Linked DNA regions of Homo sapiens: regions 1 and 3 are each linked to region 2. Evidence: fine-mapped expression QTL. A gene starts in region 2. Each other region holds a variant in brackets. All regions are shown on one strand. Distances are from middle to middle.

Region 1 (5,000 bases), 100 kb before region 2:
TTTCCCTGATCCCTGTCCATACCCTCATCAATTCTCCCACCCAAGCAAATTTGAAACAGTGAAAAAGCATAAAATCCACAGGTCTAATAACAGGGAAAATTCTGAGTAAAATTAGTCTTGACAAAATAAAACATGATCATTAAAAAAAAGTAAGAGGCCAGGTGCAGTGGCTCACGCCTGTAATCCCAGCACTTTGGGGAGGCTGAGGCGGGCAGATCACTTGAGGTCAGGAGTTCGAGACCAGCCTGGCCAACATGGTGAAACCCCATCTCTACTAAAAATACAAAAACTTAGCCGGATGTGGTGCCTGCACCTGTAATCCCAGCTACTTGGGAGGCCGAGGCAAGAGAATCGCTTGAAAACAGGAGGAGGAGGGTGCAGTAAGCTGAGACTGTGCCATTGCACTCCAGCTAGAGCGTCGCAGCGAGACTCCATCTCAAAAAAATTAAAATTTAAATTAAAAAAAACGCATTCAGGGCCAGGCGCAGTGGCTCATGCCTGTAATTCCAGCACTTTGGGAGGCTGAGGTGGACAGATCACGAGGTCAGGAGTTCGAGACCAACCTGGCCAACATGGGGATACTCTGTCTCTGCTAAAAATACAAAAATTAGCCAGGCATGGTGGCACGCACCTGCAGTCCCAGCTACTCGAGAGGCTGAGGCAGGAGAATCTTGAACCCAGGAGGCAGAGGTTGTGTGAGCCAAGATGGCGCCACTGCACTCCAGCCTGGGTGACAGAGCAGGACTCTGTCTCAAAAAAAAGAAAGAAAGAAAGAAAGAAATGTATTCAGTAGAGCCAACCTAGATGGAAAGATTATTTTATGTAGAAGGTTTGAAGAGATGTGTATTTGCCTTCTAAAACCATAAACTAAAATTATCATGAGCCCAGAGCTAATCCATATAGAATTAGACCCCACCCCAGGAGAGAAATAGCTTAAACATACTGATCTCGTGGATGATATTGGACTTTTAAGATGGGTGAAGGGAATCGAAACCTCTGGTCACAGTCGCCTGAAAGAACATCCCACTGTGACACTATGTTATCAGTGGAAGCACTCACGAGTTTATGACCATCTCGGCTCCAGCTGAGGAAAAAAAAGGGGTAATTTAGCACATATTCTAAGTATATCATACCACTCTCATGAATAAACTGTGTAAGTCACACACATTGCTGCAACTGCACAGGTCAACAATGTTTTTGGTTTTGTTCCACGTATACTCAAATCCATAAGCTTTTCCAACTAGGCAATTAATAAGAAGGTTTTCATGACATTTTACTATCTAGTAATGGAAGCTCATAATATTTCAAGATAAAACTATAAAGTGACTCAGTGAAATAAGAGATTAAAACATCTTAGAAGAGTCTAAAAAATCAGCTGCGCTTTAAGAGTTGATATATTTGAACTTTCTGAAGTCATCTCAGAAGTAGCACCATCATGGTATAAACAAAACAAAAAAATGATAAGTATCTGTTATTTAAAATAATTTTAAAAGAACTGAGAAAGAATTAATTCCTCCTGGTAAGTACAGATAAACACACTGGACATAATATATAAAACAGACAAAAAAGGTTCTGAAAGGTAGACAAAGGACAGGCAAGCCAGAGACTGTAGAATCTTAAGGATGACACAGTAGTGAAATCCCTGAATTTTCTGCCTCATGTTCCCCGTTCTGGGTGAAGGAGAAGCCAACAACCTGGTAATGCCAGTGGGCACGCATAAAAAGCCCCAAGAAGAGCTAAGGGACCAGAAAAGGACAGCCCAGCAAGACAGAAAACTTTAAGACAATAACCAACCTACGCCAGCCAAACATCACAGAAAAGAAATGCAAATCCCCCTCTTAGCCAGGTTGAAGCAGATAGCCTAGACTTCACCTTTATCCAGCTATAACAAGGCACCCTCCCCACCTCACTGGGGTGGTGTCAGAGAAGGATCAGTAGAGAATCAGATTTGCATTACCACCAGCAGTAATGAGGTCGCACCACCATGGTGTCAGAGAAGGACACATAGAGAGAAGGAACAAGGAATTCCTATCCTTCCCAGACAGGATGTTATCAGCAGAGACCTAGTGGAGAGCCTAAACTTCCAATCCCACCCAGCAGTAATGAGGCCAAGTAAGAAGAAACCTGGACTTTCACCCACCTCTGGGAATAACAAGATGGTACACTCCATTTCCCTGTGCAGTATCAGAGGAGGCCTGCTAAACTAAAAGATTTAAATAACATCTATAGGACGGGCGCAATGGCTCACACCTGTAATCCCAGCACTTTGGGAGGCCAAGGCAGGCAAATCACTTGAGGCCCAGAGTTTGAGACCAGCCTGGCCGACATGGTGAAACTCCGTTGTCTACTAAAAATACAAAAAATTAGCCGGGCATGGTGGTGTGCACCTGTAGTCCCAGCTACTCGGGAGGCTTGAGGCAGGAGAATCGCTTGAACCTGGGAGGCAGAAGTTGCAGTGACCCAAGATGGCGCCACTGGGCTCCAGCCTAGGCAACAGAGTGAGACTCTGTCTCAAGAAAAAGTAAAAAATAAATAAGATCTACAGTCTCATAATACCCAAAATGCCCAGGTTTCAACTGAAAATCACTTGTCAACTCAAGAACAAAGAAAATCTCAACTCGAATAAGAAAAGACAATCAATAGACACTAATACAGAAATGACATAAATGTTAGAATTATCTGACAAGGATTATAATGCAGCCATCATAAAAATGCTTCAACAATTATGAACATGCCTGAAACAGATGGGGAAAAAAGCCCAGAAAATCTTAGCAAAGAAACAGAAGATACAGAGAAGAACCAAATGGGAATTTTAGAACTGAAAAATATAGTAACAGAAATAAACTCAATAGATGAATTCAGCAGCCAATGGAGGAAAAAAAGGGAAAGAATTAGCAAACTGGAAGATGGAATAAAAATTACCATAGACATATATATATATGTGTCTGTGTGTATATATGTGTGTATATGTATGTGTGTGTGTGTGTATACATATATATATATA[C/T]ACACACACACACATATGTATCTATACACACAGAGCCTCAGAGACCTGTAGAACTATAACAAAAGATGTAATATTCATGTCATCAGAATCCTGGAAGGAGAGAATACAGACTGGGATGTTAAGGTTATTTGAAGAAATAATGGCTGAAAATTTCCTAAATCTGGCAAGAGATACAAAACCTACAGATTCAAGAACATCAACTAGGATGAGCCCAAAGAAATCCACTCCGAGAAATACAAACTTCTGAAAACTAAAGACAATGAAAAAATCTTGAAAGCTGCAAGAGAAAAATGATGCCTTATCTATAGGGGAACAACAATATGAATGAAAAGGGATTTCTCATCAGAAACCATGAAGGCCAGAAGGAAGTGGCACATTTTTCAAGCACTGAAAGAAAAGAACTGTCATTCCAGGAATAAACGGGTAAACTGAGACACTTGTTGCTAGCAGACATACTCTAAAGAATGGCTACATAATGTTCGGAAAAGATTAAAGGAAGGGTTTAGAACATCAGGAAGGAAGAATGAACAATGAAAAGAGTATAAATATATGGGTAGATAAAATTACTTTTTCTAAGCCAGGTGCGGTGGCTCACGCCTATAATCCCAGTACTTTGGGAGGCCAAGGTAGGTGGATCACCTGAGGTTGGCAGTTGGAGACCAGCCTGGCCAACATGCTGAAAACCCGTCTCTACTAAAAATACAAAAATTAGCCAGGCATGGTAGCACATGCCTATAATCCCAGCTACTTGGGAGCCTGAGGCTAAAGAATCGCTTGAAACCAGGAGGCAGAGGTTGCAGTGAGCCGAGATCGCGCTATTGCACTCCAGCCTGGGTAACAAGAGCAAAAATCTGTCTCAAAAAAAAAAAAAAAAAGGCAGGCGCTGTGGCTCACGCCTGTAATCCCAGCACTTTAGGAGGTCAAGGCGGGCGGATCATGAGGTCAAGAGATCGAGACCATCCTGGTCAACATGGTGAAACCCGGTCTCTACTAAAAATACAAAAATTAGCTGGGTGTGGTAGTGCACGCCTGTAGTCCCAGCTACTCGGGAGGCTGAGGCTGGAGAATCACTTGAACTTGGGAGGCGGAGGTTGCAGTGAGCAGATATCGCAGCATTGCACTCCAGCCTGGGTGACAGAGCATGAATCCGTCTCAAAAAAAAAAAAAATTACTTTTTCTCTTCTTGAGTTTTGATGTTTGAAACACACATTTTAACACTGTCTTATGTGGGTGTCAATGTATGTAGAGCAAATATTTAAGACAATTATATTACACACAAGAAAGGACAAGGGGACAACAGGAAGGTAAGGTTTCTACACTTCACTTGAACTGGTAAAATGTTCACCAATACAACTTATCACCAGTAGACTGTGGTAAGTTATAAATGTATGATGTAAAACCTAGTAACCACTAAAGCTACACAAGGGTATACACTCAAAAAACACTACAGATAAAGCAAAATGGAATTCTAAAAACTTGTCCAAGTAGCCCACAGGAAGGCAGGAAACAAAAACAAAAAACAAATGGAACAAGTAAAAAAGTAACCCAAAACCGATACTTTACCCAGGTTTTGAAATCAAGAGGAGGTGCTATTGAGAAACTCAGCAGGCAATATAATCTCCATGGTTAAGAATATGGCTCAAAAGTCAGACTTCTACTCAAGCCTAGACATTACTACCTCCTAGCTGTGTGATCTTAGCACGTTACTTAAGCTTTATGGGCTTCAATTTCCTCATCTATAACACAGGAATAAAAACGGTATCGACCTGCAGAAGGCTGTTGAAAGAATTTAATACATACAGAATTCTTGGCTTGGCACATAATAAGTACTCAATGCCTGATACATAATAAGTGCTCAATGCCTGGTACATAATAAGTGCTCAAAAAATTATTTATATCAGAGACAAAATAAATATACTGCCAGACTCAGGACTCTAGGAACAGAGGAAGGCAGGGGTAAGCTAAGGTTATAAATATAGAGGGATTAAGTTAAAGC
Region 2 (5,340 bases):
GGTAAGAATTGAGTGTTCCTTCAACACCCAAGTTCCTATTAATCAGAGACTAACATTCATAAAAGAAAGTTGAGGACTGGGTGTGGTGGCTGATTACTGTAATTCCAGCACTTTGGGAGGTTGAGTTGGAAGGATCGTTTGAGGCCATGAGTTTGAGACCAGCCTGGGCAACAAAGTGAGACCCCATCTTTACAAAAAATTTAAAAAAGAAAGTTGAGACAGTCTCTGAATAACTTGACCTTACAAAGATGGCCTGTAAATGGGGAGAACAAGAGCTAGTTGTCTTTTTAGGAGTGATTTCTACTTTCTGACATGACCACCTAAACAGCTAGGAAAATGCATCCCTCAAATATACATATTAAGTGTCCCTTCACTAACTTTCCTTGGTGCATTTTTACCCCCAAACTCTCCACGCTGAAAGGAAGAAAAGCATTTTATGGAACAAAACCAAATTGCTCCCACTCCTGCCATCTGCACCCTCCCAGGTTTTTATCTGGGATGGACAGACTCCCGATGGTGAAGAGAGTTAAATACGCAAAGATCAGTTCATGATGCAGTCAACTGGAAAAGCCAATGAAGTGAAATGCAAAGGTATATTTGTATGTCTTAAGTTGTTTTTTAAAGAATAAAAACAACAGCCAACCAAAGTGCCTTGAAAACCTCCATCTCTCTGAGGTTAATCAATTCTCTTTGTTTTAGAAGCAAGTCTAAAATAAATAGTTGTTTTAAAATAAAAACAGCAATAAAGGGCTTTTTAAGATAAGCTGTGAGAGAAACTTCCGAGCAGGAGACACCTCTGGAAAGCACTGTTATGGGTGCGGGTGAAAGTACACATTCTGGGGATCGTCTCAGAAAACATTAGCCCTTCCCATCAGCTGTTTTCTGGTAGCCTCACAGATACTGGTTCTCTCTACAAGTCCATTCCAGGACAGTATATTTCTGGACGTAAGATGTCAAAGACTAGTTTCAGAAAAACTAGTCATCCCCAGAAATGGTGATAAAAATAAGATACTAAGATCATGACAGGGTCCTAAATGATACCGTTCCATTTAGTTGGTTTGGATAGGAATTTAAAAAGCCTTATTTTACCTTGTAACATAAAAGGAGGGGGATGACTAGTTTTTCTGAAACTACTAGTTTTTCTGATACTGTCATGATCTTAGTATCTTATTTTTATCACCATTTCTGGATTCCCAGTCGGATGTAGGATATTAAGCGCAAAACTTTGGGAATATAAGACCTAACACGCAAAGTCAGAACAATTCATCCAGTTCTAAGCCTTGTGTTCAAATTTGCTATGAGCATCTAAATTCATGGTTCTGAAAGTATTTTAACGGACCACCTGCATCACCTTCCCCAGTGTCTTTTATTATTACTATTATTATTATTATTATTATTATTGAGACAGAGTCTTGCTCCGTCGCACAGGGTGGAGTGCAGTGGCACAATCTCTGCTCACTGCAACCTCCGCCGCCTGGTTTCAAGCGATTCTCCTGCCTCAGCCTCCCCAGTGGCTGAGATTACAGGCCTCAACCACCACACCTGGCTAGTTTCTTATATTTTTGGTAGAGACGGGGTTTCACCATGTTGGCCAGGCTGGTCCCGAATTCCTGACCTCAAGTGATCCGCCCCGCCTCTGCCTCCCAAAGTGCTGGGATTACAGACGTGAGCCACCGCGCCCGGCCTCTTCAGGGTCTTTTCATGTTAAATTAGATTCTTAGGACCCACTTCACACACCTATTCAATAGGAATTTATGAGCTAGAGCACGAGACATGGCATTTTTAATACGCCCCTGGGGTGAGTTTAATACACACTTTAGTTTGAGAATCACTAAATTAAACCCACAGACTTCTTTGCTGTTTTGTCCCCAAGATATCTATCTACGTGGAATGTCAGTCCCTTCTCCCTTCCAATCTAAAGTTATTTCCTAATTAGACGCAGTAGTTAACAAATCCTCCAGTTCCCCACCAACAGCAGTTTAAAAGGAAGCAAGACGTTAGGAAAGATTAAAGACTGCACGATTTTAAGTGTTTGGGGGCCTCTGGCACATCCTAGAAAGAATCATGCAAGAAAGAACAAGAGTAGCTAGTTCTCCATTGGCTCAGGACCAAAATGATCCCTTCCCTCTCTTCTTCACCTTAAGCATGAGCAACATCTCTGGCAATTCCGTGGCACCCATCAGATATGATTTCCTCTGGCGACCCCCAACCCTATTTAGAGAATGTCCCCTCTTCACAGAGCTGCCTCATGATTGGTGTGAACACATTTCACATACATCATCAAACCCACACACCCGACTACAGTCCCATGGCCTCCTCGGACTCCCGGGACTCGCTGCCGCCTCTGCTCCATCTCTAAACTGGGGCTCTGACCCACAACGGCGCACGCGCCCGCCCCCAACTCAGAGCAACTTTCCCCACTCCTCGGATTAACTGCTACCCTCTCCGAACGCCGGCCCGCCCCAGGTCCGTCAGCGCACACCCCGGTCCCCGGGGTCCCGCTCCGGGAACTCCGGCCCTCGGTTGCCCCTGGCTCCCGGTCCCCCAGCGGGCCCCTTCCTCCCCTCCTCAGAAGGATGCCCTCCCAAGGTATCCCAGATCCGGCCGGCCCATGCCCGGGGACCCGGCCACACGACACGACTGCCCCTTTCCGCCTGCCCGAGAAGACTCGGGCTTGTTTTGCAGGGCAGGGGTGCGGTCCGTCCTCCGATTTGCCTCTCCTGCCCTCTCTCCCTCCGGGCTGCCCTCCTTACCCGCCTGCAGCCCGGTTTCGGCGACATCGCCTGCAGGGCCGCGCTCGGCCCCGCCGCCGCCCGTGAGGGAGGAGAGACAAGTGTGGTTGTGGGAGCACTTGATGTCGCGGAAGAACTTCTGGGTCTCGCGCAGGTTCTGTCGCAGCCGTCCCAGGTAGCGGCGGTAGCGGCCGAAGCCCCGGCACAGCTCGCGGATCATTCCGCCGCCGCCGGGGCCGGGACCCGAGACGGGCTCGCTGCCCCATGGCACCCCGTCGCCCTCCATCGCCTCTGCCCGCTCTGTCTTTGCGGCTCGGTCCCCGGCCGCAGGCCCGGCCTCCCTCCTCCCCGCCCCCCAGTGCCGAAGGGAGGAGGAATCCGCCTCCTGACGCCCCCGCCTGCAGTCAGCCTGGCTCCCAACCTCCGTCACTGCCGTTGCAAACAAACCAAACCGCAGTGCGCCGCTATCGGAACCTTTCTCTCCACTATCCAGAAGCGTGAGGGAAGGATCGCTGGAGGACACCCTCGCCGCGGGGTCTCCTGGGACTTGCAGTCCGGGCTGGGACCAAACGCCAAAACCTCAAGGCTGGAGAAGGGGAGGCTGTGGATGGGACTGATCCCTTTTGGAGAAAACCCTCACTCGTTCTTGTGTTTTCGCGCTCTCTTCATTTTAAAAAGTGTTCCTAATCCCTCTATGAGCGTCCCTGAGGAGAGGGAGGAGCTGCAGGACCTGAGTGCCAGCAGAAGTGGGGGGGCCTTACCGAAATCGTAGCGAAAGATGTTAATAGTAGAGAAAAGGAAGGAAACAAGACTGAAGACAGTCATCTCCATGGCTACCCTAAGTGGCTCTCTAGTGTTTCGGATACAGTAGATACTGGGGAATCGGCTAAAAGTACCCTGGAAATCGGCTGAAAGTACCCTGGAAATAGGGAAATCTCTTATATTTGCATTGCGTTCCCCTTTTCCAACTTTCCTTCTCCAGACTTGGAAAGGAAGGGTGTGAAAGGATCAACAAGAGCTGTAAGCTGAACTTCAGTGGGTTCCTGAAGTAGGGAGACCGGACTGGGTAAGGGGAAGTTGAGGTTTGTAGCCTTCCAAACTATTTCTGATTATCTTAACTTGGTTTCTGCTAATATGGAGGACTTTCATTGACACACACAGTCACAGACTCCTGGACACAATTACAAAGGGGGCAAAACTTGACGTCACCTCTTTTGTGCTTCCTGAATTATCTCTCCCCTCTTCACCAGGCACAGAGCCCATCTGTATCTTTCTTGCTATAGAAAGACACCGTCTTTTACCTAGGCCAGACTTCTTCTCTGATAGGCTACATGATGTAGTTCCTTGACTGAAATTAAGAGGAGATTTGAGTTTGGATCTGGACTCTTCCTATACCTTGCATTGTGATCTCGGGCAAGACCCCGTTTCATCTTCTATAAAGTAAGGGTTTAGAATGGCAGATCTTTAAGCCCTTTTGGTTTTAAATTTTTGTGAGTCCTGCTTCAGAAATTTTACTTCTCCTGACCTCTCATCGCAGAACACCCAGGTGTTCTTAGCCAAATGATGTCGTGATATTTGGATTAATTGTTGTAAGATGTGAAGGCCTTACCTTTCCAGGGGCATTAGCATTTTATAAAAAGGGGTCACTAATTCAAATGAATCTGTATTTGATAAATGTCTGTGAGGGCTGACTGCAAGGAGGGAGCCTCATGCTCCTTCCCATTTACCCACTCCCCCTTCTGCCTTTTACTTGGTCACGTATTTTCCATCAGCCATTCTTCTTTTGCAAGATTATATTCCCCATGCAATCCCCAAAGGTTCAGTAAAATAGAAATGAAAATTAAAAATGGGAATTTTAATACAAAGTAGATACTATTTTTAAAATAGAAGAGCTGTAAGAAAGCAATGTGTAATGATTTGCCACACACACGAATTTCTAGCACAGGAGATCAGATAAGAGCACTCAAGCTGGAGTTATCCAGAAAAGGAATCTATCTTGAAGAAGGGGCAAAATTTAGATAGGTGGAAGTAATCAGAGAGGGCATTATTTCAGGTAAATATCACAAAGCCCACCCTTTTAAAAACTATTCCTTAGTACTTTGCATTTATTTTCAAAATAAGTAATACACGAATGTGGTATAAAATTCAAATGGTGCAAAGGATATATAAGGAAAAACTAAGTCTTTCTTAGTTTTTCTGTTCACCTCCCAGTCACCTAGTTCCCCTCCCAGGAGGCAACCACTGTTGTAGATATAAATCATGTATAAATAGATCCTATATATGTATTTATATATGTGTATGCATGTATTTTAAATACAAATGATAGCATACGTAATACATATTTGATTATGGCCTTGCAGACTTCTGTACCAAAACATAAAGGTCTGTTTCATTCTTTTTAACTGTGTAACATACTACCACATGGATTGGCATGTTTTATTTAACAAGTCTTCTATTGGCGGACCTTTAGGTTTTTTGCAGTCTTTTGATATTAAAAACAATACTGCAAGAACTAATCTATGTACATCATTTTGAATATGTGTAAGTATATCTCATACCTATTTTTGATCTGTTGAGAAAGGCAATAATTTTTTGCTATTTAAAATCT
Region 3 (5,340 bases), 750 kb after region 2:
TGCAGAAGACTTAAAACTGTGATGATATAAAAGTAATGCTGTGGCTCACAGAAACCTGGAGGAGGGGCAGAGGATATAGATTCCCACATCCCTCCCAGAGGCGGGGTGATAGGCTTTATCTAGAGCTGATGCATTAATAATAAGAAATAAGGAAAGGAAGGAAGGAAGAAAAGAAGCAAGGAAGGAAGAAAGGAAGGAAGGAAGAAAGGAAGGAAGGAAGAAAGGAAGGAAGGAAAGGAGGGAAGGAAAATAGATAGATAGATAGATAGATAGATAGATAGATAGATAGATAGATTTATTTAAAGATATTGAAAGTCCCAAAGGCAGCAACCAGAAGACCCAAAATAACAAAAATTAGGAAAAGGGAGAGGAGAGGTTGGAACAGTTTCAGGAGATGTGTCATTGAAGAATTATATATTACCTCAAAAGTGCATGTAAGCTGGGTACAGTGGCTCATGCCTGTAATCCCAGATACACAGGAGGCAGAGGTGAGAGGATCACTTGATGCTGGGAGTTTGAGACCAGCCTGGGCAACCTAGCAAGACTGCCTTTCTTTCTCTCTTTCTCTTTCTTTCTCCCTTCCTTTTCTTTCCTTCCTTCCTTTCTTCCTTCCTTTCTTCCTTCCTTTCTTTCTTTCCTTCTTTCTTCTCTTTCTTTATACAGGGTCTCACTAAATTGTCTGGGCTGATCTCGAACTCCTGGGCTCAAGAGATCTGCTCCCCTCGGCCTCTCAAAGTGAGCCACTGTGCCCAACTGATCCTGTCTTTAATTAAACAAAGTGCATGTGGATGAGGCATCCACTCCCCACTATGCCCAAGTTTATCTGTGATACGAAAGCAGTTCTCCCCTCCCCACCTTCGAGTAAAACCGAGGCCCTAGGTTCTGTGTCACAGTTTTCCCTTCACTTGGAGTTCCCTGACCCACCATGGCATGGCTTAGCGGGAGAGGCACAGCTTTTGGCAAAGGCATTTTAGGCACTGATGGGAAATGACAAATGGTATATGTGGCCTGAGGGACCCAGAAAATTGCTCTTAGTCCATCCTGCTGGTCCCGAAGGGAAACCCTAGTTGTTCCTTTTATCAGGGCTTTGGTTGGAAGAGGGGGTGTTCCTCCTCCCCAAATGGCCTCTGCCCCTGGGGAGGCTGACTGAGCCACAGGAAGCTTGCTTCTGAAGCAACTCAGAGTGAAGGGGTTCTGGTTCTTTCTTCACTGGCTCTCTTGGCGTCAGGAGGCCACCAGAAATGGGCACAGAGCTACCTGCTGCCAGCCTGTTCCCTCCAGTCCTTCCCTTCCAGACCTAGGCTCCCTTCTCCCTCCTGCCCTAACCCTGTGGTTGTTCCTCCAGCCCCCATCTTCATCTTAACCACAGTTAGGTTTATCTGACTTGGCTGTATTTCAGAACCTTCTGGAGGAGTTTTTAAAAATACAGATTCTTAGGCCTTATCCCAAGAAATTCAGGTTGACTGTGCCTCGGTGGGACCTGGTTGTGAGCATTGTGTAAAAGCTCCTCAGCCGCTTCAAGCACACAGCTAGGTCAGCGGAGCCCTGCCTTACCCCCAACCCTGCCTTCTTTCCCCACTTGCCTCCCAAATATGTGTTCTGTGTTTTCTGGCACACATGACATGACTTTGATTGGTAATTGATGATTTTCCACATCATCACTTTTAAAATCAGATACTCTCTGAAACGTCCCTCTGTCTGCCTACTGTTTCTACCTCGTCCATGAGGCCCATCATCTTTATCAGCAGTGTCACTGTAGAAGACTCATCCCTGTCTCCCAGAGCTGCTCCTAACCTCTTGAGGCTCTAGAAGGCAGCCCTGAGCTGGCAGAGAGTGCAGCTCTACATTTTTCTAGCCAATAGCAAAATGGTCACACTGGGGCCTGGCTCCATGTGCGTCTCGGTCTCAGCCCCAAGTCAAGCCCCTCTTCCTCTGAACAACTGGATTCTTCCAATCTTTTTTTGGGGAGACTCTCCACAGTCCCCAAGGTGAGAAGAAAGTATTGGTTATGTACATCAGCCAGAACCCCTAGCTTGTCCGCAGGCACTGTATTTCCTTACTGAGCTCATATTAAGCAGTGGAACTGATAATACCATCTCGGCCTGTGACTTCCACGCATGAAAATATGCACCAACGAACCTGCATTAAATGGTTGGGAAATCACCCCTCCTAACCATTCCACGGCATCCACTGTAGGAAAAAAGAAAAAAAAAAAAAAAAAAGAAAAGCGGGAGACTGAACAAACAAGCTTTAGGATGAAGATGATAACCCCAAAACAAAATTCCAAGCACCAGTGAAGAAGAGGTTATTCTGAATTGGGGATAGTGTTGTCACTCCTCAAATTGCAGCCATTTCCTATGGGACACACTGAATGGAGAAGAAACTAAATGTGTGTGTGTTTGAATGACACACCTGAGTTACAGTTTGCTAGTTATTTCTGCCTCCTCTGGCAAAGGACAAATAGAGGATTTTCTAGAGAAAAATGATGGAAGTCCGAAGGAGTCATCACTAGGTGCTTTGTCCTTTTTGTATTCTAGTTGCACCCACCTCTTGGATTGGATATAGCAATAACATTTATTGGCCGTTGTGAGCTCTTGATCCCAGTCATTACCCCTGAGAACTAAAAATAGATGGTTCTTAATTCAACTTACTGAAAATTTCCCCAAACAATAGCAAATCTGACTTTTCCCTCTTCAGTTGCCTGGTATTAAGGTTGGATAAATGAAGCATGCACAGCTACAGGCTTTCTACTTAACTTCTGGGTTTGCTATTACAAATCCTATTTACTCTCATACCCTTCTCCTTAGTCCTTCATATTTCTCTGCCTCTATTCTTCTATACTGCAGATTTTTCTCACCTATTGTACAAAGAAATTGCGATGTATATTTTCATGTAATTTGATTTTGGAATTCTGTCACCTTATGTAGTGAGTTCTTCCAAAATATAATTTTTTTTCAATAAAAAAAAAAAAAAAAAAAAAAAAAAGAAAAATGATGGAAGTCTGTAAAAACTCATTTGAAAGGTCAAG[A/ATTT]TTTTTTTTTTTTTTTGCAAATGACCTTGTTCAAAGAGCTTCAGGCATTTTGTCCTTTAGCAGTCCAGCCCAGGTCCAGGCTGGAGAGTGAGATGGTGAAAAAAGTCAGAGGTCAAGAAAGACAGCCCAGTTAGAAACCCCTGATGCTGCTGGTGGGAACCACCTCTCAGCCTCACTCTAGCATGACTCCTGCCCAAAGGAAGATGAGAGTTTTAGCTTGGGATCGGGCGGCGGGCAACCAGAACCCCAAAGATCTGCTTACTCCCTGGAGCTTTAGCTAGAAGACATCAGTTTGAACTGACTGACATCTCCCCCCAGCCCCCTGGGTCTGCCCTGCAGCTTCCCAGGAAAGGAATCGCCCAATTAATGAACACCCCAGGCCACTGCCTGGAGGCTGGTGTCAACCTGCTGCTTCCCTGGGTCCAGAGACTTGTGACAGCTCTCTGGCTTTTCTCCTCCACTCCCAGCAGTACCGCCTCCAATTTTCTGTTCCCAAACATCACGCTTCTCAAAGTTCCATCATACAGAGAATGCTCTTTATTAGTTATATATTTTTCTGCTTATGAAAGTAATTTTTTGCCCACTATAAAAATTCAAACAAGATAGTAGTGTGCAAATAAAAAAGCACGTCTAAATAATCTCATTTTCCTCAGATAATCCGCCTTAGCAGTTGGGTGTACACCCTTTCAGATCTTTCTCTTAAGTGTGTACAAACAGCTTAATGTGCCAAGCTGTTTGTTTCCCCACACCTTTGACCATACTGTCTGCCCTGCTTCCTGGAATGCCCTTTCTTCTCTTTTGCCAGGCTGACTTCTGCACAGCCTTCTGAACTTAGCAAACTTTCTCTTTCTGTCGTCCCCCAGCCTGGAACAGGTACCTTCCCCTGGGCTCCTTGACCCCTTGCACAGCGCTGTCATAGCACCCAGCACAATGAGTGATCAACTCCTCTCTGTTTAACCATCTGTCTCCCCGACTAGAATATAGTATAGGTTAGTGGCCAAGAGGTGGGGGCCAAGGTGGACCCCAGTTCCCTCCCTAGGTGCCCCAGCCCCTCTGGCTCTGTCTGACTGTCCCATTCACTTTAGCATCCTCAGTGTCTAGCACACTGCCTAGCACATGGTTGGTGCTCAACAGGTATTTGTTGAATGAGTGAGTGAGTGAATAAGTTCTGGGTCACCACAGGTGTCCCCACCATGGGGCTCTTATATACAGGTAGAGAGCTGCAGAGAGGGGCAACCACCCAAAAGCAGAAGAGCTCCATGTTGCTGAGCCCCAAAAGTTGCCAGTAACTTACACTAGCTGTGTAACCTTGAGGGAAGTCCTCTCAGGATGCAATGAGAATAAGAATTTATAAAGTGAGGCTCCCTCCTACCTCCCACCGTGGCTACACTCCCACTCCCACTTAGGAGGCAAAGAGGCCCTTTCCTCAAGCCCAGTGAAACACTAAGAGCTCAGGTCTCTAATAAAGCTTGGCATGCTTGGCTCCCAGAGGCAGAACTCCAGACGTACCTGCTGTGTGACCTTAGGCAGGTGCCATAACCACTCTGAGCCTCCTCCTGCAACAGGAAAATTAGAATGCACTCAGTAATACCTATGTCACAGGTTAGGGAGGAAGACTAAATTAAGTGTGAACGTTGGAGGCTCTGTCAATTCCATAGCTGTTTGTTCTACCTCCCCCCAACCCCAGGCGGTTCAAAGTAAGATCAGGGTTCTAGAAACCTGGACTTTAGCTCTGCCCCTCAGCCCAGGAGACTATGGGTGCATCTGTGCTGTTTCCTCATCTGTAACATGGAGCCAGGAGTGTTGGACAAGATGGTTCCGAAGGCCCCTTCCAGCCTCTCACATTCGAAGTGCTCTGAAAAGTAAAATGTTCTGCAAAGTGCCCCAAGTCCTTGGGCTATCATTTGGTTGTGAGAAAATAGGCTCTGCCAGTGGCCAGCTCTCTCGCACCATAGCCCCTGCCAGTCAGAACTGGGAACACGGAGACTGGCAGGCCACCAGCTGGAACACCCCTGACCCTGGATTTCTGTGTTGGGGACTGTGACACTACCTGATGCTGCTCCTTCCCAGTCCCCAGCAAGGGACAGATGTGAGGACAGTTTGTGTTGTGCGTCTTTTGACTTTTTTGGAATGTGATTTTGCTTTTGGGCAGTGTGGGGTCTAGTTGGGGAGGGAACACTGATGGGTGACCCTGATGTGGGGAGTACTCATTGAGCACTGCAGTCTGCAGGGGCTCTTGAGGGCTGGGGTTGAGCTGGGCTTTGAAAGGTGCTTATGATTTGGGTATGTTAGAGGGAGGGTGTGTTGTGGGG

Direction of the effects. Positions count from the first base shown, and alleles are read on the strand shown. Sizes are in standard deviations (SD) of each study's normalised expression. Not every link is listed here.
With allele ATTT in place of A in region 3, the expression in skeletal muscle of the gene that starts at base 3,185 in region 2 is higher (large effect, 1.4 SD a copy in FUSION).

What was found. PIP is the estimated chance that this variant, and not a neighbour inherited with it, causes the effect.
Region 1: its variant is the best candidate, but not a certain one, in a credible set for the expression of DSTYK in nasal epithelium (TOPMed, PIP 0.50).
Region 3: its variant is the best candidate, but not a certain one, in a credible set for the expression of DSTYK in skeletal muscle (FUSION, PIP 0.56).

The regions. Positions count from the first base shown.
Region 1 is chr1:205,104,085-205,109,084 of GRCh38, forward strand. RBBP5 (RB binding protein 5, histone lysine methyltransferase complex subunit) reads right to left here. Exons shown (of 14, transcript NM_005057.4): 4 at 944-1,084. Among named protein-coding and RNA genes, the nearest start is that of RBBP5, 15 kb to the right of the region's middle. RefSeq lists enhancers at 734-878, 2,075-2,219 and cis regulatory regions at 806, 2,147. The variant C/T (reference allele first, on the strand shown) is at 3,005.
Region 2 is chr1:205,208,518-205,213,857 of GRCh38, forward strand. DSTYK (dual serine/threonine and tyrosine protein kinase) reads right to left here and starts at 3,185. Exons shown (of 13, transcript NM_015375.3): 1 at 2,754-3,185. The coding sequence starts at 3,018. RefSeq lists silencers at 2,515-2,564, 2,985-3,114.
Region 3 is chr1:205,955,428-205,960,767 of GRCh38, forward strand. All of the region lies in intron 2 of SLC26A9-AS1 (SLC26A9 and RAB7B antisense RNA 1), which reads left to right. LOC103021295 (a long non-coding RNA gene) reads left to right here and starts at 2,498. Exons shown (of 1, transcript NR_110982.2): 1 at 2,498-2,961. The variant A/ATTT (reference allele first, on the strand shown) is at 3,029.